Homo sapiens: one gene and its partners. The protein of the gene in region 7 interacts with the protein of the main gene of each other region in a biochemical or structural test. Each region holds a gene or a part of one and is shown on either strand. Other genes may lie near its edges.

Region 1 (4,152 bases), on a different chromosome or scaffold from region 7:
TCAATTAGTTACTCCTAATTTATTCAATCATTCTCTACTTTAAAAAAAAAATGCTAGTAGAAATGATTCTGAAATAAGCACCTTTGTCCAATATTTTATTGACTTATTTAACACTATTTAGTGTAATTAGAAATAATAACTGTGTTTTTCTGAAAGTGTTTAATTTGTTCTTTCCCCCAAATGGACAATTAGTCCAAATGCACAAGAGGAGGCATATATGAAGAACCTAGGAACACACAGAAAGGAACAGCAAACACTGGGATCTACTTCCGGCTGGAGGGTGGGAGGAGGGAGAGGAGCAGCAAACAAACACTGGGAAGTGGGCTTAATACCTGGGTGATGAAATAATCTGTACAACAAACCCCCGTGGCACGAGTTTACCTATGTAACAAACCTTCACATATACCCTGAACCTAAAATAAAAGTTAAAAAAAAAAAAAAAGCCAGGTGCGGTGGCTCATGCCTGTAAGCCCAGCACTTTGGGAGGCCAAGGCAGGCGGATCACTAGAGGTCAGGAGTTCTAGACCAGCCTGGCCAACATGGTGAAACCTCATCTCTACTAAAAACACACAAAAAAAGGCTGGGTACGGTGGCTCACGCCTGTAATCCCAGCACTTTGGGAGGCCGAGGCGGGCAGATCATGAAGTCAGGAGATCCAGGCCATCCTGGCTAACACGGTGAAACCCCGTCTCTACTAAAAATACAAAAAAAAAATTAGCCAGGCATGGTGGCAGGCACCTGTGGTCCCAGCTACTCAGGAGGCTGAGACAGGAGAATGGCGTGAACCCGGGAGGCAGAGCTTGCAGTGAGCTGAGATTGCGCCACCGCACTCCAGCCTGGGCGACAAAGCGAGACTCCACCTCAAAAAAAAAAAAAAAAAAAAAAAAAAGCTGGGTGTGGCGGCACGTGCCTATAATCCCGGCTACTTGGGAAGCTAAGGCAGGAGAATAGCTTGAGCCCAGGAAGCCGAGGTTGCAGTGAGCTGAGATTGCGCCACTGCACTCCAGCCTGGGCAACAAAGGAAGACCCTGTCTCAAAAAAAAAAGAGGCATACATGGAAAAATGACACAGAAAAAGCATCCTAGATCCAGGTCACAGCCTCACTGGGTCTCTGAAAGTCCTCATTTCTGCGGACCAATGTCAGGCAATGTTTTTTCTCTCTCCTTGGTGCAACTAGGGAGCTTTCGGCTTGGGGCTTGGTGGGTGCAAAGACGAAATTCGTGCTGTGTATGATTTGTGCACTGGCAACGTGTGTCTTATCAACATTTCCAAGGAGAATTTGCTCCTGGGGAAAGTCAGCAGGGTCCAGAGAGCAAAAGGATCATAAAGCCAGGTAGGCCCAGGGGAGAAACAGCCGGTCTTTAGGTGGCTGGCGCAGAGCAGGTGTCACTTGGGAGGTAGAGCACACCTGTTCTCCCACCTGAACAAGGATGGAGAACAAAGAGGCGGGAACCCCTCCACCCATTCCATCCAGGGAGGGGGTAAGTGCCAAGACTAGGAACCTGTCACTGTCCCTCTCCCACCAGCTGTGCAGACCTGTGGAGGGAGGTGAAGGCCGTGGAATGCTTTTAGCAAGGAGCGGGTAGCGTGCTTCCTTTTTCTTCAGGATAACCAGGCCTGGGAGAGCCATGTGGAGAAGCAGCTATGCTCAAACCTCATGGCTCAGACATGGGCCAGGGTGGCTGAGCGAATGCTGGGAGAGCGGATGGTGCTGGAGATGCCTCTCTCCCTTCCACCCCTGCTCCCCTCCGCTTCCCCTACCCTTAAAGATCGAGGGGAGATGGCCTCTGAAGAATGCCCGAATCCTGCCCTTCTGTCTGGTTGTTCCTGGATGTGCAGAGCTACGGGCTGTGGGCAGCCAGGCAGCTAAGTGTGAGGGTTGGGGTGAGGACATGTGGAACAGGAGTGAGGGGTGGAGGGGGCAGTGGGGAGGGGGCATGCACCAGGGCCTTGGCTCTAGGACATGGTCAGAGACCCTGCCCACCTGCTCCTCAGACTTTGGCCCTCAGGCCAGTTCCCCTCCAAGCTGCCCTGGGTGTTGTGGCAACCATGGAAAGCCTGGCCCTGAGCACAGGCGACTGCCGGGATTTTCCTAAGGGCCTGTTCTAGAGGCAGAGGCAAGCAATGAGTCCCTCTGTCTGGGATGCTCTTCCCCCCGATGCTTACACAGCTGCTCCCTCTCATCCATTCTGGTCCCGGCTCAAAGGGCGCCTGCTCAGAGAGGCCTTCCCTGCCCTGCCCACCCTACTGAACACAGTCTCTCATTCCTCACAGGCTGCTACCCCACCCATCACCCTATTTTATTGTCCTCACAGCATTCTAGCTATTTGGAATTATCATCTTTGTCTTTCTTGGACGGGGTGGGCTCCCCTCACTAGAAAGTGAGCTTCTTAAAGGCAGTGCTTTGCTGGGCCTTTTTCCTAAAGCATCCCCTACTTCACACTTGGCCTCCAGGGCCTAGTACAGGGCCAGGCACGTAGCAGATGCTCAGATACATCCTCAAGGAGGGAATGAATGCGTGCAGAGACCTCAGCCCCCAAAAGCCCCAGCCCTGCGCCACCTCCTCCTCTTTTCCGGGGGCACGGCCTGGGATCCCCCATCCCCCACTTCCAGCCCAGGCTGGAGGGAGGTGGAGGCCCAGCCACTCCACTTCCCGAGGCCCAAGCCCACAGCGTCCCGACCTTGGACTTGTCTCCTACAGCGGCTCCAGCCGACGCTGTTGCTGGCGACACTGAGCGCGGCCTTTGGCTCAGCCTTCCAGTACGGCTACAACCTCTCTGTGGTCAACACGCCGCACAAGGTGGGCACAAGGTGGGCACAAGGTGGGCCGGGCAGCAGCTGACCGGGGTCGTGGGTGGAAGGTAGCCGCCATCTTCCTCCGTGGAGGCTGCCATCTTGCCTGTAGGAGGCACCATCTTGCCTTTGGGAGCAGCCAGCTTGCCCTAGTACCCTGGATGCTCACCCCTGGAGACCAGGGCGTGGCAGGAGGTGTTTCCCCCTGGAGTGTCGTCCTTTCCGGGCACATTGGGATGCTGGGGGACCTGTTCCATTTTCCAGCCCAGTCTTTTTGGGCCTCAGGTCCCACTGCTCTCACCTTGGGTAGGCCCCTTGTTGATTGGAAAGAGAATGGGGTCAAAGATTGAACTCTGTGGCATTTAGGGATTGGGGCAAAGGGGAAAAAAGGAAAAAGAGAAGGGGCCCTTGCAGGTGTGGAAGACCCTGAGGGCAGAATGTCCCCAAAACCTAGTAAAGGATGAGAGTCAAGGAGGGAGGGACAGCCTGTGCTGATGAGCTCAGATGAGGACTGAGAACTGACTACAGGCTTGACCTTGGTATACGTCTATGCTTACGCTTGTATACATATATTAGCATGTCTACAGACACTGTATTACATTTGTTTGTGTATTACGTATATATACATATATTAGTGTACTTACAATTATTACCATGGATGGAACCTCCGAGTCAAGCAATGTACCATCACTTAATCACATTTAATGCTAACACATTCTTTATAAGGTACATCTTGTTTCCATAACTGATGAGGAAATTAAGGTTTCTGGAGGTTCTGTAACTTGCCTGAAGTCACACAATTAGTAAAAATATTTCCTGGGCTGGGAGCGGTGGCTCACGCCTGCAATCCCAGCACTTTGGGAGGCTGAGGTGGGTGGATCACCTGATCACCTGAAATCAGGAGTTCAAGACCAGCCTGGCCAACATGGTGAAACCTCATCTCTACTAAAAATCCAAAAATTAGCCAGGCATGGTGGCGGGTATCTGTAATTCCAGCTACTCGGGAGGCTGAGACAGGAGAATCACTTGAACCCGGGAATCAGAGGTTGCAGTGAGCCAAGATCATGCCACTGCACTCCAGCCTGGGTGACAGAGTGAGACTTCATCTCAAAAAAAAAAAAAAAAAAAAAAAAAAAAAAAAAAAGAAGAAGAATATTTCCTATGGTGCCTCTGGCAGAGTAAGTCGTAAGTCTCTCAAAAGTAAAATTTTTTTTTTCTTTTCTTTTCTCTTCTTTTTTAATAGAGACAGGGTCTCCCTATGTTGGCCAGGTTGCTCTTGAACCCTTGGCCTCAAGCAATCCTCCCGCCTCGGCCTCCCAAAGTGCCAGGATTACAGGTGTGAGCCATTCCCAGCCAAAA
Region 2 (3,500 bases), on a different chromosome or scaffold from region 7:
CATGGCTCTGCCCCTCTCCATGGGGCCTTGTTCCCTACCTGGGCTCTCCAGCCCAGTAGACACAACCTCCTCCACGTTGCTGCCGTTGAGGTTGGCACGGAGGATCCGGTCCAGGGTGACATCTGACCAGAAGACAAGCTCGCGGCGGTGGTGGAAATCAAGGGCAATGGCATTCTCCAGGTTGTTAAGCAGCAGTGTGTACTCAGAGCGGTGTGGCAGCACCTGCCGGATGTCGATGCGATTGGCGAACAGCAGCACAGGCTCTGGCCCTGGGAAACAGTATAAACATGGGATACCCACTGGGTTTCAGAGCCGCCCCTGGTACCCATCAGCAGGTCTTCAGCTGACCGATGGAGCCACTTGCTCACAAGGACATGCCCCAAGCTGTCAGCATCAGTACCAGAAGAGTGGCAACCTTTAAACTATATTCCTCCACCCCTCCCCACCCCACTCCACCCCAGCAGCATTTTTCTTGGGGCTCAGAATGCAACTGTTGCTGCATTTTACTGTGACAGAAATCTCTCTACCTCTCTGCAAATCCCTGAGCACCAGAGTACCTGGCCTTCCTCCATGCTCGGCCCTCTGCCCACCCAGCCAAGTGCCAACAGCCCTTACCCAGAGCCTTGCAGCTGCGCCGGTCGGGCCGTAGTTCATAGCCTGTTTCACACCAGCATTGGAAAGCCCCTTCGCTGTTGGTGCAGCCCTGGCTGCAATACCCCTCCTCGGCACATTCATTCACATCTGGGAACACCAGGCAGGTCAAGAGATCTCCCTTCTGTCGTCCTCCCACTCCCGCTCCCAGGCTGCCGAGCTGCTTTTCTGCCCACATCCCCATCTACTTTCCAGGCCTAGTGGGAAGGCTGTCTAAGAAATGGTTAAGGGCGGCCGGGCGTGGTGGCGCACACCTGTAGTCCCAGCTACTCAAGAGGCTGAGGCAGGAGAATGGCTTGAACCCAGGAGGCGGAGGCTGCAGTGAGCCGAGATCGCACCACTGCACTCCAGCCTGGGCGACAGAGCGAGGCTCCATCTCAAAAAAATAAAAATAAAAAATAAAAAAGAAGAAATGGTTAAGGGCTTTAAGGTCATGCAGACCTGGGCTGGAATCCCAACTCTGCTACTCGCCAGCTGTGTGGCCTTTGGTAAGCTACTTATCCTCTCTGTGCTTCAGTCTCCCCATCTGTGAAATGGGAAGGATGATCCCCACCTCCTAGGGTTATTGTGAGGACGAAATGAGGTCACACCGTTCAAATGCCTGACCCATAGGAAACACAGCTGCCTGTCTGCTGCCCCTGCTCAGAACCCCGACTCTGCTGCAAACCAGGCCCCAGCTCACCTTGGCACGTGTGCCCATCCTCTGTGAGCCGGTAGCCTGTGTGGCAGGTACACTGCACTGCCCCCCGCACCATCTGGCACTTCTGGGCACAGCCACCGTTGTTAACATTGCAGTTCTCCTCACCCGTCCGGGGCCCTGTGCCAGCCAAGCCAGAGTTGGGAGTTGAGCCCAGAATCCTCCCCCAGAGAGCCAACTTGGCATTCCACCTGGACCACAAAGAACAGCTCCCAAAGCTGCAAGAGTCCTGAGGGAGGATTCCCTTTGAACCCTATGGGTGGGGTTCGGCCACAAACCATGGGCCAGGTCCGCCCACTGGGGACACTCACGGCAATTCTGCTGTGGGCTTTCGTCGCTGTTGTCACCACAGTCGTTGACCCCGTTGCACAGCTTCCTCTGCCCAATGCAGCGCCCATTCCAACACAGGAACTGGTCCAAGGCACATTGGGGGCTTCCTAGAGAGATGGAGGGTCAGGTCATAGCAAGGCAGGGCTTGGGCCAACAAAGAGATGGGAGCCTGTCATTTTCTAGGGTAAGCTGGAGACAGATGAGACTCAAGGTGGGAGGGTGAGGGTCCTGGGCAGGAAGCAGCTCAGACAGGGCTGGCTGAATGTCTGCATTTGCTTTCTCCCCAGGACTCCACAGTGGGATGGTGAGGAATATGGAACAGAATGAAAAAGTGCAACCACATGCTCAATACTGGGTGTGGCCAGGGGAGCACACATGGGGGCTGCCAGATGGAGGGTAGTCCTTCCTCACTAGACCAGAGCTAAAGGCACTGGCTGTGTGTGAGTTAGAATAGGAGTGGCAATTGAAACTCGCAGCTCTGATACTGTGCTCCAGGCCATAAGGCCGCAGGTCAATGATGCACCTGGATTTTACACTGGTAAAACCTCAACCCAACTGGAAAGATACCAAAGCACCCTCTTTTCCACCCTTCCACCCCAACTATAGGCTAAGGGTTCTGGGGCACCCCGGGAGACACCACCTGTATTCTCACAGTTCTCTTCATCGCTGTTGTCTGCACAGTCGTCCTCCCCATCACAGCGCCAGGACAGGCGGACACAGCGGCCTGAGTGACAGCGGAACTGTTCTGCCGTACACATGGAGGTGGCTGGGCAAAGCAAAGGCTTAATGAAAGGTGGGCCCCATTTCAGCCTGAAATTCTCCCTGCCACCCAAATCTGCAGCTTATATCAGTACCCATGCCACTCTTGACACCGGGATCACAGCTGGTCTATATAGTGTCTTTGTGTGAATCAGAAAAAAGTATCCTTTCCTCAAGACACTTTACTGCCATCTGCTGGAAAACTGCCATGATGAGTATATAAATCTATTATGTGACTGGCTTCCCTTTGGACATATTGCCTCTGCACAGTGCACAACCTACACAACTGTACATGGTGGTGGTCTTACCCAGTGTCTTCAAGATTTATGGGTAGTGGCCTGTTTGTCTTTTTTTTTTTTTCTTTTTATTTTTTTATTTTTATTTTTTTTTATTTTTTAATTTTTTTATTATCATTCTTGGGTGTTTCTCGCAGAGGGGGATTTGGCAGGGTCATAGGACAATAGTGGAGGGAAGGTCAGCAGATAAACAAGTGAACAAAGGTCTCTGGTTTTCCTAGGCAGAGGACCCTGCGGCCTTCCGCAGTGTTTGTGTCCCTGGGTACTTGAGATTAGGGAGTGGTGATGACTCTTAACGAGCATGCGGCCTTCAAGCATCTGTTTAACAAAGCACATCTTGCACCGCCCTTAATCCATTTAACCCTGAGTGGACACAGCACATGTTTCAGAGAGCACAGGGTTGGGGGTAAGGTCACAGATCAACAGGATCCCAAGGCAGAAGAATTTTTCTTAGTACAGAACAAAATGAAAAGTCTCCCATGTATACTTCTTTCTACACAGACACGGCAACCATCCGATTTCTCAATCTTTTCCCCACCTTTCCCTCCTTTCTATTCCACAAAACCGCCATTGTCATCATGGCCCGTTCTCAATGAGCTGTTGGGTACACCTCCCAGACGGGGTGGTGGCCTGGCAGAGGGGCTCCTCACTTCCCAGTAGGGGCGGCCGGGCAGAGGCGCCCCTCACCTCCCGGACGGGGCGGCTGGCCGGGCGGGGGGCTGACCCCCCAACCTCCCTCCCGGACGGGGCGGCTGGCCGGGCGGGGG
Region 3 (3,500 bases), on a different chromosome or scaffold from region 7:
AATAATAAATCTAAATAACAAATTTTTGAAAAAGATATTTTCAAATTCAAGGAGTAAAACATTTGGCCAGGCATGGTGGCTCACACCTGTAACACCAGCACTTTGGGAGGCTGAGGTGGGTGGATCACTTGAGGCCAGGAATTCAAGACTGAACTCCAGTCTGACCAACATGGCAAAACCCTGTTTCTACTAAAAATACAAAAAATTAGCCAGGTGTGGTGGTGCACACCTATAATTCCAGCTGCTCAGGAGGCTGAGGCAGGAGAATTGCTTGAACCCGGGAGCTGGAGGTTGCAGTGAGCCAAGATCGTGCCACTGCACTCCAGCCTGGGTGACAGAGTGAGACTCTGTCTCAAAACAATAAATAAATAAAAATAAAAATAAAAATTTTGACAGCAATTTTTTTTCTTCTATAAATTGATCTTCTAAAAAACCCAGTATCTTAGAATCAAATGTGATCTGGAAATGTACTTACGAGTCTGCGGATTCTGAAAGGCCACAGCTTTGTCAATCTTTAGCTGAGGCTGAAGGTCAGCTACTTCCCAACGACGAAATTCTGGTGCTGTGGTGACATTGAGCAGGAACTCCATTAGAATATCACTACAGAAGACATCGAGATAAGAATTATGAGTCAAAAATGTAAAGCCAACATTTGAGATTCTACATAGCTGTAATGCTCTCAATGTGAAACTTTAGGTCTTGTGGTAAGCAGTGTTTTTGAGCAGTTTATGAACAATAATCCAAAATGGAAGTCAGAGGTCATAATGACGCATTACAAAGACCAGAAGTGAGCAGCTTAGTATTTCTTTCAAAGCAGAAGTCCTAAACACACACAGGTACTTACACATCACCCCGCAGGCATTCCACAGTATAAGCCATGTTTTCCCTTGTTGCGGTCACACTGAATCGGAAAATAAACTAGAGTAAATCATCTGAATCAGGATAGTAAGCTTTCCCTTATAATCTTCTATCAACCAATTCCTTTGGAAAGAAAATTTCTGAAGTATAAAAGGTGCGAACAATAATATAACAAAACTCCACATATTAACCAACTAAAATTCAAAATTTTTTTAAAAACCAGCAAATAATTCAACCTTAAAAGGAGTGAAATCTGGTCACATGTTACAACACAGATGAACCCTGAGGACATTATGCTAAGGATAATAAGCCAGTCACAAAGGGACAAATATTGTATGATTCTACTTATGAGGTACCTGGAGTAGTCAAATTTGTAGAGACTGAAAAGAGAATGGCAGTTGCCAAAGGCTGAGGGGAGGGGAGAATGAGCAGCCATTGTTTAACAGGTACAGAATTTCAGGTGGGAGAAGATAGAAAAGTTCCGGAGCTGAATGTTGGTGATGGTTGCTGAATGCCACTTAACTGCACACTTAAGAAAATGATAAATTTGGGCCGGGCGCAGTGGCTCACACCTGTAATCCCAGCACTTTGGGAGGCCGAGGTGGGCGGATCACTTGAGGTCAGGAGTTTGAGACCAGCCTGGCCAACAGGGTGAAACCATGGTCTCTACTGAAAATACAAAAATTAGCCAAGCATGGTGGCGCACGCCTGTAATCCCAGCTACCACGGAGGCTGAGGCAGGAGAATCGCTTGAACCCAAGAGGCGGAGGTTACAGTGAGCCAAGATCATGCCACTGCACTCCAGCCTGGGCGACACAGCGAGACTGTCTAAAATATATATATATATATATATATATATATATATATATATATATAAATTTTATGTTATATACATTTGACCACAATTTTTTAAAATGGCAAATAAAGTTGAAGATCTTTTCGTACCCTTCCAAGACCAATTCCCTCACTCTCTCCCACTCTGGAAACCACAATCATAAGCACTACATAGTATTTTTCTGCTTAAAAAATTAAAATACCTTAAAGAAATCTTGAAACTTGCTTGTTCACACTCTATTTTGCCCTTCAGTTGTGCTATGTTGACGTATGGATCTAGTTCATTCCGTAATGGCTGTATAGTGGTCTCATCATGACTCTGTCATACTTTACCCATTTCCCTAAAGATGGACACTTAGATCGTTTCCAGTCTTTATAAAGAATACCTTTGTGAATGTGATTAAAAACTGTGGGGTTTTTCAATATTACCAGATATTCCTTGATTCTTTCCTAAGTGGTTGTATCAATTTATACTCCTATCAGCAGAATGAGACATTCTCTATCATCTTTACCACTGACAACACAATATATAAAAAATCTGGGCTGGGTGCAGTGGCTCACATCTGCAATCCCAGCATGCTGGGCTGAGGTGAGAGGATCACCTGAGGCCAGGAGTTCAAGACCAGTCTGGGCAACATAGTGAGACCTCCATTTGTACAAAAAATAAAAAATTAGCCAGGCATGGAGTCATGTGCCTATAGTCCTAGCTACTTGGGAAGCGGAGGGAGAAGAATCGCTTGGGCCCAGGAGTTCAAGGCTGCAATAAGGTATGTCTGCACCACTCCACTCCAGCCTGGGAAACAGAGCAAGACCCTGTCTTTAATATAAATTAATTAAAAAAAAAGAAATGCTGTTTCTGTCCTGAGTGTTCCACTGACCAGCTGCTCCCCAAGTCTTTCTCCCTCTCTTTGGATATTCCTACTCCTGAGACACAACAATATTGAAATTAAGCTAATGAATAACCCGACAATGGCCCCTAAGTATACAAGTGAAAGGAAGAGTCTCATGTCTCTCACTTTAAATCAGAAGCTAGAAAGGATTAAGCTTCTAAGGAAGTCAGGAAGGCATGTTAAAAACGGATACAGGTCAAAAGCTAGGCCTCTTGCACCAGTGCAGTTCTTGAAGAAAACTAATAGTGCTACTCCACTGAACACATAAATGATATGAAAGCAAGACAGACTTATTGCTGATAATACAGAGTTTTACTGGTCTGGATTAGATCAAACTGTATTCCCTTAAGTCAAAGCTTAATCCAGAGCAATGCCCTAACTCTCTTCAATTATATGAAGGCTGAGAGAGGTGAGATGCAGAAGAAAAGTCTGAAGCTAGCCGTGGTTAGTTCATGAGCTTTAAGGAAAGAAGCCATCTTCTTAATATAATAGTACACAGTGAAGCAGCAAATGCTAATATAGAAGCTGCAGCACGTTATCCAGAAGATCTACATAAGATCATCGATGAAGGTGGCTACACTAAACCACAGATTTTCAATGCTGACAAAACAGCCTTACATTGGAAGATGCCGTCCAGGACATTCGTAGCTAGAGAAGTCAATGCCTGGCGTCAAAGCTTCAAACGACAAGCTGACTCTTGTTGGGGACTAATGCAGCTGGTGACTTTAGGATGAGGTCATTTACCATTCTCAAAATCCTAGAGCCCTTAGGAATTATGCTAAATCTACTCTGCCTATGCTCTGTAAATGAACAAAAAAGCCTGGATGATAGTACATCTGTTTATAGCATGGTTGACTGAATATTTTAAGCCCATTGCTCAGAAAAAAGATTCCTTTCAAATTATTACTGCAACAATGC
Region 4 (2,636 bases), on a different chromosome or scaffold from region 7:
CCAATTTAATACCAGGAAGGAAGAGAGGGGCACTAGAGTTGAAAAGGCAAGCAAGGGAGTGATTATAATATAATATAATATAATATAATATAATATAATATAATATAATGTAATATAAGCACAGTGAGAACATAAGGATGGTGAGTATCCAGGTTTCCCTGTCGTCCCTAAAAACGTACCAGGTAGGCAACTGCCGTTGATGAGTAAAGCTCTCCCTGTGTGACATTTGTCTTCCTTATATTAGTATGGCTTGGAGAGAGTTCTGGGGTGGTGATGCTTTGCAAAGAAAAATCATGAAGGAGATCATCAGAACACATCATTTGCCTGCTATCCAATATCTTGTTGGATCTGAACTGAAGGATTCATAAGACAGTTATTAATGGCTAATATTTCAAAAGAAGAGACTTTTCTTGTTAACATAATGTATCAATAAAAATATTTCTCAAAGTATTAAGCTTATCCAATGACAATGTTTTGCTTAGATAAATTGGGTCAGCATATATATTTTCTGCAACAGCTAATCAAAATATTTTAATAAGCATAAGAATTCCACATTAAAACACAGAACTGAGATTCCTACCTCAGTTATTTTTGCATCTAATCCATTATACTTGATACTACTTTGCATTAAAATGATAAATGCAACAATTTCTTGTATGTTATAGAAATAATATATACATAAAATAAAATATGAATATGTCACTCTTAATAGAGATACCTCAGTAATTTCTTAAAATTGCTTTTTTAGGTACTTAAGCATTGCCTATATGCATTTAAATGTCTGAAAGTAGTGTTTTCTAACAGGCAAAGATTTCATGATGAAGACACAAAAGGTGGTTGCAACGAAAGCAAAAATTGGCAAATGGGATCTAATTAAACTCTAGAGCTTTGTCAGAGCAAAGGAACCTATCAACAGAGTGAACAGACAACCTACAGATTGGGGGAAAATATTTGCAAACTATACATCTACAAAAGTCTAATATTCCAGCATCTATAAGAAACTTAAACAAATTTACAAGAAAAAAAAATCCCATTAAAAAGTGGGCAAAGGATATGAACAGACACTTTTCAAAAGAAAACATACATGCAGCCAACAATGATATGAAAAAAAGCCTCAATATCACTGATCATTAGAGAAACGCAAATCAAAACCATAATGAGATACCATCTCACACTAGTCAGAATGGCTATTATTAAAAAGCAAAAAAAAAAAAGCAGATGCTGGCGAAGTTATGGAGCAATTGGAACGCATATACACTGATACTGGGAGTGTAAATTAGTTCAGCCATGTGAGAGTGTGGCAATTCCTCAAAGACCTAAAAACAGAAATACCACTGGATCCAGCAATCCCATTAATGGGTATATACCCAAGAAATATAAATTGTTTTATTATAAAGATACATGCACACGTATGTTCAATGCAGCATTATTCACAGTAGCAAAGACATGGAATAAACCTAAATGCCCATCAACTGTAGACTGGATAAAGAAAATGTATGTATACACCATGAAGTACTATCCAGCCATATGAAAGAATGAGATCATGTCATTTGCAGGGACATGGATGGAGCTGGAGGCTATTATCCTTAGCAAACTAATGCAGGAAGAGAAAACCAAATACCACATGTTCTCACTTATAAGTGGGAGCTAAATGATGAGAGCACATGAACACATAGAGGGAAACAACACACATTGGGGCCTATCAGAGGGTGCTGGGTAGGAGGAGGGAGAGAATCAGGAAAAATAACTGGTGCTAGGTTTAATACCTGGGTGATGAAATAATCCGTGCAAAAAAACTCTCATGACACAAGATTACCTGTATAACAAACCCGCACATGTATCCCTGAACTTAAAATAACAGTTAAATTAACAAAGAAAGTGGCTAACACGGTGAAACCCCGTCTCTGCTAAAAATACAAAAAATTAGCCAGGCGTGGTGGCGGGCGCCTCTAGTCCCAGCTACTCGCGAGGTTGACGCAGGAGAATGGTGTGAACCCAAGAGGTGGAGCTTGCAGTGAGCCGAGATCGCGCCACTGGCACTCCAGCCTGGGCGACAGACGGACACTCCGTCTCAAAAAACCAAACCAAAACAAAACAAAGAAAGTAGTGTTCTCTAAATAGCTTAGAGAAAGACAATAATTCAATTATTTTATATTTTAAAAAATTAAATATTGTTTTATAACAATAATTCTTAGATGTTTAAAAAGTGTTTACTGTTTTAAAATAATGGGTTATAAAATTGGCAGAGTTCCTGCCTTGATTTTTTTACCTAAATGAAATTTGGTTTGCTTATATATACATTCATTGAATAAATAAAATGATATTTTATTTAACAGCAAAATTGAGTAAGCAATGATATTTTAAAACTTCTTTCTGAAGACCTACATCTTGACAACATTTATATAGCTAACAGCACATTTGTAGAGAAGATGTTTAGGATCCTCCATGATAAAAACATATATACATATGTATACACATAGTTTTTAATTTTTTTTATTTCCAACTACTATTTACTCTAAAGATAATATATTTTTAATCTAATAATGACTATAAGGTGTCACCACAGCCTTTTCTTAAAAGCACCATTCCACCTCTGAGAATAAGCTGATATTTTACTTAAGGCATATTGAACTTCT
Region 5 (3,500 bases), on a different chromosome or scaffold from region 7:
GAGGGAGTCACCTAGTGCCCCTCTTCCAGGCTGGACAGACATCAATCCTACTGCTAGGCTGGATAGATGCCTATTCACCTTACTACTTGTAGGGGTCTCAGGCCTCTAGGCAGTTATGGATTCTCCTGGCGTGAGCAGGTAGAGGTGGTGGGATTGCCTGTTTTATGCAGTGTCCTAACCTTGGCCCACCACCCTGCCCTACAATACCATGAGGTCTCTGGAGCTCTTTCTGACTTGGAGGCCTTCCCTCTTTCTGTGCTGAACTACCATTGGCCTTTGGAGTATTCTGTACAGTCCAACTGCACTTAGGGCAGGAGGGATTTCCCCCACCCAGTTTCCCCTGAACTAGTCCCAAGACCAAAAAAGAATTACTTCAGAGGCCAGTGCCACTCCAGGACAGTGAGCAAAGGGGAGGGGAGAGGTTACAGGGCACTGAACTGGATACTAGTCATATTCAATGGGAGAATATCCCAGTTATAAAGACAGTTTCACATGGCTTGCATATGAAGCATATCAACTACATTATCTGGGGTGCTCCACTTGGCATTTTATAGGGATGGTTGGGAAGTCCCATTTCCAGAGTAAACAGACCTTACAGTAGCAATTATCCAGTCAGTTAGGCAGGTTGTTCTCTTATGAATAACCTCGTATACATTTGGATCACATATACTCATCAGCAATTTAATAGTGATTTGTGAATCCTGCATCAACCCAAACAAGCTCTTTCATTTTGTAGCCTTCAAAATAAAGGATTCTTTCCTTAAAGTAGTTAAGGTTTCTCAAGAAGCTGATTATATTGATCTACAAAATGGAACAATTACTTTGCATTATACCCTCTGGTTTTAATAGTTACTTGGTTTTGCCCTTCCCACATATTGACTATCTTCTTGGTAACCACAGCTCTCAGAGGTAACTTTTGTTGCTCTGGTTTAATTTTTCTTTCTGTGGGTAGCTTGGAGTCTAGTGGCTTGAGCTGGGACAGACCCACCTCTGGGCCTGATCCAGCCTTAAGGATCAACCCAGCATTCTTGTACATTCATTTAGCAATTACAGATAACAATAACCAAGGGATTGAATATTTTTGCTTTTTTTTTTTTTATTAGTTTGCATCTCCTTATGCATTTAGAGAGCTAACTCCTCGGGAGCATAATCCATCTCTAAATTCTAATGAATTTTATCTTTTGTAATTGAATGTAGCTCAGCTGCATCTCCCTACCATAGGTAACCACATGGCCACCCTGGAGTCAAGGTTTCTCCTCACTCATCTTTTAATTTCTCTCTTTATCCATTTAGTTTTATCTATATAATATTTTTATCTTTACTTAAAATAACTCTTAGAAAAAAAAATTCTTTAGCAAAAGCTACATCATTGTATTTTTATAAATTTTACCAAAAACACTATTTACTCTCCTACTATTTTAACTCTTAGTAACCCAGATTCCCATTGAAAAAAATAGGAGTTATTTAATTTAACATAACATGACTTTAAGATGTTAAACTACTGGAGGTAATTTTGAGATTAAATTTACCAGATTAGTCTTACCCAAAACTACTAAGGTCATATGAATTAAAAGGCATCTTTGGTAGCTTCCTTCAGTCTGAAAAGCACTTATTTTTCTTTTAGCCAAGTGATTAGAGGTCTTTAATATAATTTGGTAGTGAAATATTACTTCTACATGACACATATAAACATATAGCTATAACAGACATACAGACAAAAGCAGATCCAAAATATTTTTCATTTGCCTATTTTCAAAAATTCTGTTTCTTAGTTTCAACTATTAACTTAAAAAGGCCAGACACCATGGCTCATGCCTGTAATCCTAGCACTTTGGGAGACTAAGGCAGACAGATCATTTTAGTCTAGGTGTTCGAGACCAGCCTGGGCAACATGTGACACTCCATCTCTATAAATAATACAAAATAAATAAATAAATAAATAAAAAAGCTTGGCTTTGTGGTGCACACTTGTAGTTCCAGCTACTCAGAAGGCTGAGGGGAGGATTTCTTGAGCCTGGGAGGTTGAGGGTGCAGTGAACTGAGATTGTGCCACTGCACTCCAGCCTGGGTGACAGAGTGAGGCCCTGCCTCAAAAAAAATAAAATAAAAGTAAAAAGTTACAGGAGCCAAACAAAGTTGAAGGAGAGAGTTACCATTCCAGGCCTTCTCAAAAGAGAAAAAAACTGAAGCAGTAGGGCACAGGTTCTGAGATATCAATCTAAATAATTTTAAAAAGAAAAAGATTATAGAATTCAAAAATTTTAAAGTCCTTGCATTAAGAGTAACTCAACATTTTTAATAAATCTTGTTCTAACCAGTTCTTTAGTGTTGCATGAGTGTACTTTTAATATCAAAGTTCAATTTTTAGAAAAACTATTATAATTTCCTTTAATTGTAGCCAACTGAATCACATAACATTTTAACAAATTCCTGTTTTACTAACCTTATTACAACTTACACAGACCATTTACAACATGCTTGGACTTTCTGGTTTGACATAAATATTTCTCTTTCTTGAACGAGTCATTTTATCTTAGGACAAAAATTCATCATGCAAGATTCTTTCTCATATAAAATTACTTTTCTTTTAAGCTTTCTTACCAAAAATACCTCTTTATAACTTTCTTTACATCTCTTATTTCCTGGTCCTTTTTACCTCATTTTATATATAATCCTTAAATAACCTCTGAATTAGACAAAAATAATTTACCTTTGAATAAGAACACTTTAGACCTTAAGAAGAATCTGCCCATGACTCTTGAAACTCCACAGAGAAAGAAAGGGTGAGTGATGCCTTTGTTCTGAGTGTTTTAAGGGGTTCAAGTCATTTGATGGCTTCTCTAGATTTTTTTTGGTACCAGACAGTGAAGGGGGAAGGAGAAATAGTGTGGAAGAAAAGAAAATGAAAGAACAATTGTGTTTTTAAGACAGGAAGCTGCAACAGAAACCAAGCGCATAATTTGTTTGTTTTCTTTTTTTCAGTTATGAGGAATTTTAGCAGCTTCAGAGGTCTGGCTGCTCATAATTTGGAATTCTCATTTGAATTTGGCCAAGTTGGGTACAGTTGGTCAAATCTGATGGGAGAAACACCAGAACAACAAAAAACCCCAACAATATGATTACTGAGCACTCTAATGCTAAGGAGAAATTAAGACTAGCCGGCTGTCAATTCTAATTTTTAGTCATTAAGGAGAATCGCTGAGATAAAAAAAAAAACCCAACTCAGCTACTTATCTAGGAATGAGACCCTGGCTCAAGACTGCTGTTTACCATCTTACAGGCAGGAAAAAAAAAGCTCAAACTTGCCTTCCCTGTTGGAAATTAGCTGAAACTCCAGAAAGGAGTTGCCCACGCTCCATTGTCATGGAAGCAGGAAAACTTGCCTTCTTTGTTGGACACAAGTAAAACTAAAAAATAGGAGTTGTAGAGAAAAATAAATTTTAGATCTTAACCAAATTTAGGGGATTGGGGATTCTCTGGAGTGGGTGGGGGCTCCCAGG
Region 6 (3,248 bases), on a different chromosome or scaffold from region 7:
ACACCCACAAATGACCAACTTCTTTCAGGAACAGGGAAGTCAGAGAGGTGTCTGAGGGACTGTGCCTGCCAGATTCTCCCGTTGGGGCTGCCTGCCTCCCTGACTCCCCACCATTTTCTTCTCTACCAAACAGATCCTTGATCTTCAAACACACACACACACACACACACACACACACACACACACACACACACACCCTCTGGCTACAGCAGGGCTATGCCTGGCTCTCTCTGCCACCCTCATCCCTGTAGATGCATTTCCCTGTTGCTTGACTCTGCTTTAAGTGATCCAGTTCTACAGGCCACGCCATCCCCTAGTTCCCCAACTCCCAACCTGGGAAGGGGACAATGAGCTGACACCAGGGGCTCAGACCCAGTGGACTCCTCTGGGGAGGCAACTGTAGATGACAACTTCCAGGGAAGGATGACACAATCCCTGCCACCCACCCCAGAGAGCTTCCCTGGGAGGGAGGGAAAGAAGTGCCACACTGGGACAGGAAGTCAGTGAGTCATCCACGACTTTATTATCCACCAGTTTGATTTGTACAATCTTTGCGCTTAAATCCACGACAAAAAGGCCACAGTGTGATGCACCCAATTGACAGAGACCTGTCTTCTCCCCAGCCAGGCCCAGCCCACCCCACAAGCCCTTGTCCCCAGGACACATGGAGCCTTCCAGGTGCCCTACATGAGTCCCCCATCACTCTGTAGCTGTCCACCCTGGGGCCACACCTACAGGAATCACATCAGCCCCCAGGGCCACAAGAGACCTAGCTGACTGATTCAGGCTGAGCGCCATTGCCCATCCTCCTTGGGCTGATTCATTGGCCCAGAGCCTCCAGAACTGTGTCCCCAAAGGGCAGGTCATGGGCTACAACCCCAGTCCAGGAGTGCCTGCTCTCCAGGGACTCCTTCCGCTAAGCAGGCGCTGAGCAGAGCACCAAAGGGGGCTTGGGAGTGACTGCATGTGTGTGCCTGTCTAGGCAACCTAGAGTCTGTCTGTGCCTGACACCCTCTGACAGTTCCGGAGTGCAAACGTGTAGGTGTGAGGGTGTGTGTGTGTGTGTGTGTGTGTATAGCCACAGCTGCTAGCAGAAGTTCTAATTAGAGAAACAAGAACATTCAGTGTAAAGTTTAATTTTAGAGATTAATTAATTTTCTGGTTTTCATTTTCCCTGGCAATCAGTAAAGCTACCAAGAAAATAGACCAAAGAATTGGTTTCTCTCTAAGTCTGTGCATGTGTGGGAGATGAGGCTGTCTGAGACGACCTAGGCAGAAATGGTCAATACAGGCAAAAATAATAATAGAGGTCCCCCTTCCCCTCTTGTGAGACCAGGCTCTGTCTCAGGAACAGGCCTGAGGGAGGAGGAGCCACGTTCCTCCTTCCTTGGAGCCCTGAGGTGGCCAGGCTGTCCCCACACAAAGCATGACATCCAGGTGCCAGCTGGCTAAGAAATGGAGCCTGAGGCTGCAGCTCACCACCTGTACCTCACAGATGTCCATTCAGAGGAAAGAAGGGTGCTCCAAACGCCAGGCCCCCAAGGAGCACAGACTCAGGGTCCAGGCAGGTTCAGTGCTAGTAGGCAGGTGGGCACTGCTGTCCAGGAAAACCTGGTGGGCAGCTGTTTCCCCTGCCCAAGCCTCCCTCTCTCTAGCCTCTTCTCCCTCCTCACTCAGCCATCTCTACCTGAAAGTAAAGCTAAACCCTTTAGAAGCCATGGGCCATGGTATCCCCACAATTTGGGCCCCTCGCACTCCCCGCTAGGAAGAAGGGAAGGGGAGCCAGAGGCGATGTTGCATAGGTGGAGGCCACACAGTTGGTGGTGCAGGCCTGGCTGGGCTGAAGGAAGATGAGAGGGGCTGAAGGAGGGTAAGGAGGAGTTCTGATGGCTCAGGCGAAGTAAGAAGCATCAGGGGTGAGAGATGTGGGTGGCCCAAGGGTTATCCTCTCTAGCCTGAAATGTGAGCTCAATCCCTGGGTGCTAAATCTGCTGGGGAGACTTTAGCCAGGGGAGTTGGCAGGGCAGGAGGGCTGTTCACAGACATGCACACTGAAGCACATCAGGGTGGAGGTGGTGGGGGGAGCACACGGAGAGAAGGCGGTGTCAGAGCTTTAGGGGAACAGGACGTGGGGCCAGCGCCCTGGGGTGGTGGCAGGATGCCCCTTTGAAGACCCTGCGACACACAGCAGGGCTTCAGCTCATAGGATAGGGAAGGATGGAAGGGTTGGGCAAGATTTAGAGAATGCTTGCCTCTGACCCTGCCATTGGAATTATTTCTCCAGTTGGGGCTTGTGACAACGTCCTCAGTCCCCCAGAGATGTGTTTGAGCGACAAGCACACTCCACTCCTCCGCACAGGTTTAGGGAGGCAAAGGCCGCCCCCACAGACACCCCACCTCTGGAGGTCCTTTTCCTCTACCCTCCACTGCCCTCTCCTCTCTTACTCCCACCTGCTTCCAGAGGTCCCCGTTGCCACCCAGGTCTATGTCATGCTCTCTCCCCTTAGTCACTCGTGCTGGCCAGCTTTAACGAGTGCTGCCCGGGTGGCATCTCACTCTCTAAAAGGGGTATACACTCAGAACCCAGGTGAGGAGGCCCCTGTTGGGAGGCTGAGGAGTTTAGAGAGAGGACTGAGGTACACAGTCCTCCACATTTCACTCCCCTCCCCACTGCACCCTGGCAACAGCTCTGCAGGACTGGGGAGCGGAAGGTGAGTGATGTCTGTGCAGTGAGCACAGTCCCTCTGGACCTGGAGTGGGGGCCCAGTTAGATAAACAACAGTGGAGGGAGCGGCAGAAAGGAAACCCCAATCTTGGGGTCAGCGCCAAGAAGAGGGCAGCAACATTTCCACGGTGTTGGATGGAGGCCTAGGGCTGACACCTGGCCCCAGCCTCAGACCTGCTGAATGCATTAGCTAGTTGGAATCCAGCCTGCTGGTCACCAAACCATTGCCCCCTCCATAGAGAGAGGCCCCAGGGGAGTGAGGCCACGAAGGAAGGAAAGCCCCAAGTTCCCTTCTCCACAGCCTCTAAATCTCCCATCCGCATGCCAGGGCCTCTCCCTTCAGACAAGGCCCAACGCGGGGCCCACGGCACGGTTGTCATCTAACAGAAGATCTGTTGAAGGGCTGGACAGGAGGGAGGTGTCCCTTTAGGAACTCAGGGTTGGGGCTGGAAGAATGACTCTGCCAGGGGGATCTCGGGGAGCAGCCGACCCCCTCCCACCCATCGGTCTCTTTATGTACAGG
Region 7 (3,500 bases):
TTTCCCTGGGCAACTCTGAAAGGGAAAAGCCAGTCTCTTTCCCAAGCACACTGGCTCAGTCCAGCCTCCAAACCTTTGCTTTATGTCCTCATCCTGGAAGGACTGTCACCCACCTCGAGTCCTTCTCAGGAAACCATGTCTCACCACTTAGGCTCAGGCCAACCTCCCCCAGCTCTGCCTGGCACAGCCTTGCTGTCAGGGATCAGAAATGTCAGGGACAGGGGTGCTCAGAGTCACCACCCACCTGACCGTTGCTCATCTGGTTCCGAGATGGTTCTGGAATCTACTGAACTTTCCCGCCGAAGCCGGGGACTCTCCCTGGTGGGGAACAGATTGGGAGTGAGGCAGGGATGGATTTCAAGGGGCCATTTTAAAAAGAATTTTAGGCCGGGCACGGTGGTTCATGCCTGTAATCCTAGCATTTTGGGAGGTCGAGGTGGGCAGATCACCTGAGGTCAGGATTTCAAGACCAGCCTGGCCAACGAGGTTAAACCCCGTCTCTCCAAAAATACAAAAATTAGCCGGGCATGATGGTGGGCGCCTGTAATCCCAGCTACTCAGGAGGCTAAGGCAGGAGAATTGCTTGAACCCGGGAGGCAGAGGTTGCAGTGAGCCAAGATCATGCCACTGCACTCCAGCCTGGGCGACAGAGTGAGACCTTGTCTCCAAAAAAATAAATAAATAAATAAACAAAATAAAAATAATTTTAATTTATCTGGGCTGGGCGTGGTGGCTCACGCCTGTAATACCAGCACTTTGGGAGGCTGAGGCAGGCCAAATGCTTGAGCCCAGGAGTTCAAGACCAGCCTGGGCAACATAGCTGGGCAATACAGACCCCATCTCTACCAAAAATATGAAAATTAGCCAGTCTCACATGACTCAGTCTCAAAACAAATAAATAAATAGAGGAAAAAGAAATTTTTTTTTTTAAGACAGAGTTTTGCTCTGGTTGCCTAGGCTGCAGTGTAATGACACGATCTCGGCTCACTGCAACCTCCATTTCCTGGGTTCAAGTGATTCTCCTGCCTCAGCCTCCCAAGTAGCTGAGCTTACAGGCACCCGGCACCACGCCGGGCTAATTTTGGTATCTTAGTAGAGACAGGGTTTCACCACGTTGGCCAGGCTGTTCTCGAACTCCTAACCTCAGATGATCCACCCTCCTCGGCCTCCCAAAGTGCTGAGATTACAGGCGTGAGCCACCGCACCTGGCCTAAGGCAGAGTTTGATACTAAGAAGTGGGGTGCTGCTGTAACCAACACCTACAAATGCGGACACGGCTTTGGAACTGGGTAATGGGTAGAGGCTGGAGGTATTTTGAGGCACATGCTAGAAATACAGGACTGCGTCCTCAAGGTTACCCCCAGTTGGAAAGCTACGCCCGCGTTCCCCTCTCCCTCCCACCTCCCTCTCCCTCCCTATCACCATTCTGGCCGATGGGTGATACTTACACGGGAGAGTCGGTCTGGCTGGCCTCGGGGCTCCGCTGAGCATGCCGGGGTGGTGGTGGGATGTGGGATGGTGGTGCCTGCGATAGCTCCGAGGCGAGGTCCGAGATGTCTGCAGGGGGAGAGGACATCTCATCAGCCATGGTCACGCCTTCTGGACTGGACCCATTTTACAGAGGGGTATATCAACACCCCTCTAAACAAAGGGCCCTAGACCAAAGTCAGAAGCTCAGTTAGAAGATTCGGCTCTGGAGCTGGGCACGGTGGCTCACGCCTATAATCCCAGCTACTCAGGAGGCCAAGGCACGAGAATCGCTCGAACCCAGGAGGCAGAGAATCGCTTGAACCCAGTGAGCCGAGATCGCCCCCCTGAACTCTTGACTTGCTGTGTGGCCTTCAGCAAGTTCCTGTCACTCTCTGAGCCTCTAGGGACCAGGCTCATTGATTCCTTGGCCCTGCCTGGGGCTTCCCACCTTCCCTGCCATCCATTCAACCCCCTCCCAGGTCCTAACCTCTAGGTCCTCACCCTCCAATGGCGAGCTGTCGCTGTCACTGACAGCAGGCGGAATGTTCACCAGGAACTGCCCACGATCTCTCAGCACCAGCAGGCTTAGCTTCCCTTCTGACTTCTCAATCAGTCGCCGGGTGTCGTTCAGTGACAGGTTCTGGCTAGACACCCCGTTGATCTGAAAGGGACCAGGAATGAAAGAGCGGAAGTGAGTTAATGAGAGATGGGAGACAGTAGAAACAGCCTGGTGTGGGGGAACTTGAAACAGACAATTCCCCCAGAGGTTGCTAAAAACAGCCACTCCCTAAGGAAAGTGTTGAATTGGATTCCTGCTGTGAGTGGAGACCACACCAAGAACTGAGCACCGAATTCTAGAAACAGAAAATGTTCTAAGAGGGGTGGGAGACACTGGGGAAAATGAGAAACAGGTTGACTCTCCTTTCTTACCAAAAGTGGAAATGTCTCAGGGGATACTAGGAACAGATGTGAGGGTGACATTATAAACAACTCTAACTGGAGAAGAGGGAGTATCAGATACTTAAAAGATACTAGAAACACACAATCTTCTGGGAGATAACTAGAAACAGATATCTAGAGTGGGGCGCGGTGGCTCACGCCTGTAATGCCAGCACTTTGGGAGGCAGAGGCAGACAGATCAGTTGAGGTCAGGAGTTCAAGACCAGCCTGGCCATCATGGTGAAACCCTGTCTCTACTAAAAATACAAAAATTAGCAGGGCGTGGTGGTGGGCGCCTGTGGTCCCAGCTACTCAGGAGACTGAGACAGGAGAATCACTTGAACCCGGGAGGTGGAGGTTGCAGTGAGCCAAGATCCCGCCACTGCACTCCAGCCTGGGTGACAGAGCGACACTCCATATCAAAAAGAAAGAAAAGAAAAGAAAAAAGAGAAGAGAAAAGAAAAGAGAAAAGAAAACAGTCATCTAGAGGTAGATTAGAAACACACAATTCCTAGAAAGAACTTAATGTCGGCCGGGTGTGGTGGCTCATGCCTGTAATCCCAGCACTTTGGGAGGCCGAGGCGGATGGATCACCTGAGGTCGGGAGTTCGAGACCAGCCTGACCAAGATGGAGAAACCCCGTCTCTACTAAAAATACAAAAAATTAGCAAGGTGTGGTGGTGCACGCCTGTAATCCCAGCACGTTGGGAGGCCGAGCGGGGGGGATCACCTGAGGTCAGGAGTTCGAGACCAGCCTGGCCAACATGGAGAAACCCGTCTTTTCTAAAAATACAAACATTAGCTGGGTGTGGTGGCGGGCACCTGTAATCCCAGCTACTCGGGAGGCTAAGGCAGGAGAATCACCTGAACCTGGGAGGCGGAGGTTGCAGTGAGCCGAGATTGCGCCACTGCACTCCAGCCTGGGTGACAGAGCGAGACTCTGTCTGAAAAAAAAAAAAAGAAACAGATAACTTTTTGAAGACACTGGAAATAATCAGCTGAAAGCAATTTGGAAATCAAACACTAGGAGTCACTAGAAACAGACTTTCAGGGGAAGAATCCAGAAAGATACCATCCTTTAGGGCAGGGCA

Evidence for each region.
Region 1: the proteins of TJP3 (region 7) and SLC2A7 interact in a test that uses a peptide from one of them, tested with the Homo sapiens proteins (one large-scale study listed by IntAct).
Region 2: the proteins of TJP3 (region 7) and LRP4 interact in a test that uses a peptide from one of them, tested with the Homo sapiens proteins (one large-scale study listed by IntAct).
Region 3: the proteins of TJP3 (region 7) and UQCRC2 interact in a test that uses a peptide from one of them, tested with the Homo sapiens proteins (one large-scale study listed by IntAct).
Region 4: the proteins of TJP3 (region 7) and KCNV1 interact in a test that uses a peptide from one of them, tested with the Homo sapiens proteins (one large-scale study listed by IntAct).
Region 5: the proteins of TJP3 (region 7) and SLCO1A2 interact in a test that uses a peptide from one of them, tested with the Homo sapiens proteins (one large-scale study listed by IntAct).
Region 6: the proteins of TJP3 (region 7) and TMEM151B interact in a test that uses a peptide from one of them, tested with the Homo sapiens proteins (one large-scale study listed by IntAct).

What each region holds. Positions count from the first base shown.
Region 1 is NC_000001.11:9,023,624-9,027,775, reverse strand, and holds the start of SLC2A7 (solute carrier family 2, facilitated glucose transporter member 7), read left to right. Parts: upstream 1-1,352; 5' UTR 1,353-1,430; coding exon 1,431-1,481; intron 1,482-2,701; coding exon 2,702-2,800; intron 2,801-4,152. UniProt on the Homo sapiens protein: Probable sugar transporter. Even if its physiological substrate is subject to discussion, it is able to transport glucose and fructose. Does not transport galactose, 2-deoxy-d-glucose and xylose.
Region 2 is NC_000011.10:46,894,551-46,898,050, forward strand, and holds part of LRP4 (low-density lipoprotein receptor-related protein 4 precursor), read right to left. Parts: intron 2,445-3,500; coding exon 2,319-2,444; intron 1,786-2,318; coding exon 1,660-1,785; intron 1,469-1,659; coding exon 1,334-1,468; intron 742-1,333; coding exon 616-741; intron 270-615; coding exon 39-269; intron 1-38. UniProt on the Homo sapiens protein: Mediates SOST-dependent inhibition of bone formation. Functions as a specific facilitator of SOST-mediated inhibition of Wnt signaling.
Region 3 is NC_000016.10:21,959,861-21,963,360, reverse strand, and holds part of UQCRC2 (cytochrome b-c1 complex subunit 2, mitochondrial precursor), read right to left. Parts: intron 902-3,500; coding exon 845-901; intron 601-844; coding exon 476-600; intron 1-475. UniProt on the Homo sapiens protein: Component of the ubiquinol-cytochrome c oxidoreductase, a multisubunit transmembrane complex that is part of the mitochondrial electron transport chain which drives oxidative phosphorylation.
Region 4 is NC_000008.11:109,963,136-109,965,771, forward strand, and holds the end of KCNV1 (potassium voltage-gated channel subfamily V member 1), read right to left. Parts: 3' UTR 501-2,636; downstream 1-500. UniProt on the Homo sapiens protein: Potassium channel subunit that does not form functional channels by itself. Modulates KCNB1 and KCNB2 channel activity by shifting the threshold for inactivation to more negative values and by slowing the rate of inactivation.
Region 5 is NC_000012.12:21,328,418-21,331,917, forward strand, and holds part of SLCO1A2 (solute carrier organic anion transporter family member 1A2), read right to left. Parts: intron 1-3,500. UniProt on the Homo sapiens protein: Na(+)-independent transporter that mediates the cellular uptake of a broad range of organic anions such as the endogenous bile salts cholate and deoxycholate, either in their unconjugated or conjugated forms (taurocholate and glycocholate), at the plasmam membrane.
Region 6 is NC_000006.12:44,276,697-44,279,944, reverse strand, and holds the end of TMEM151B (transmembrane protein 151B), read right to left. Parts: 3' UTR 501-3,248; downstream 1-500.
Region 7 is NC_000019.10:3,732,384-3,735,883, reverse strand, and holds part of TJP3 (tight junction protein ZO-3), read right to left. Parts: intron 2,132-3,500; coding exon 1,972-2,131; intron 1,558-1,971; coding exon 1,449-1,557; intron 319-1,448; coding exon 245-318; intron 16-244; coding exon 1-15. UniProt on the Homo sapiens protein: TJP1, TJP2, and TJP3 are closely related scaffolding proteins that link tight junction (TJ) transmembrane proteins such as claudins, junctional adhesion molecules, and occludin to the actin cytoskeleton.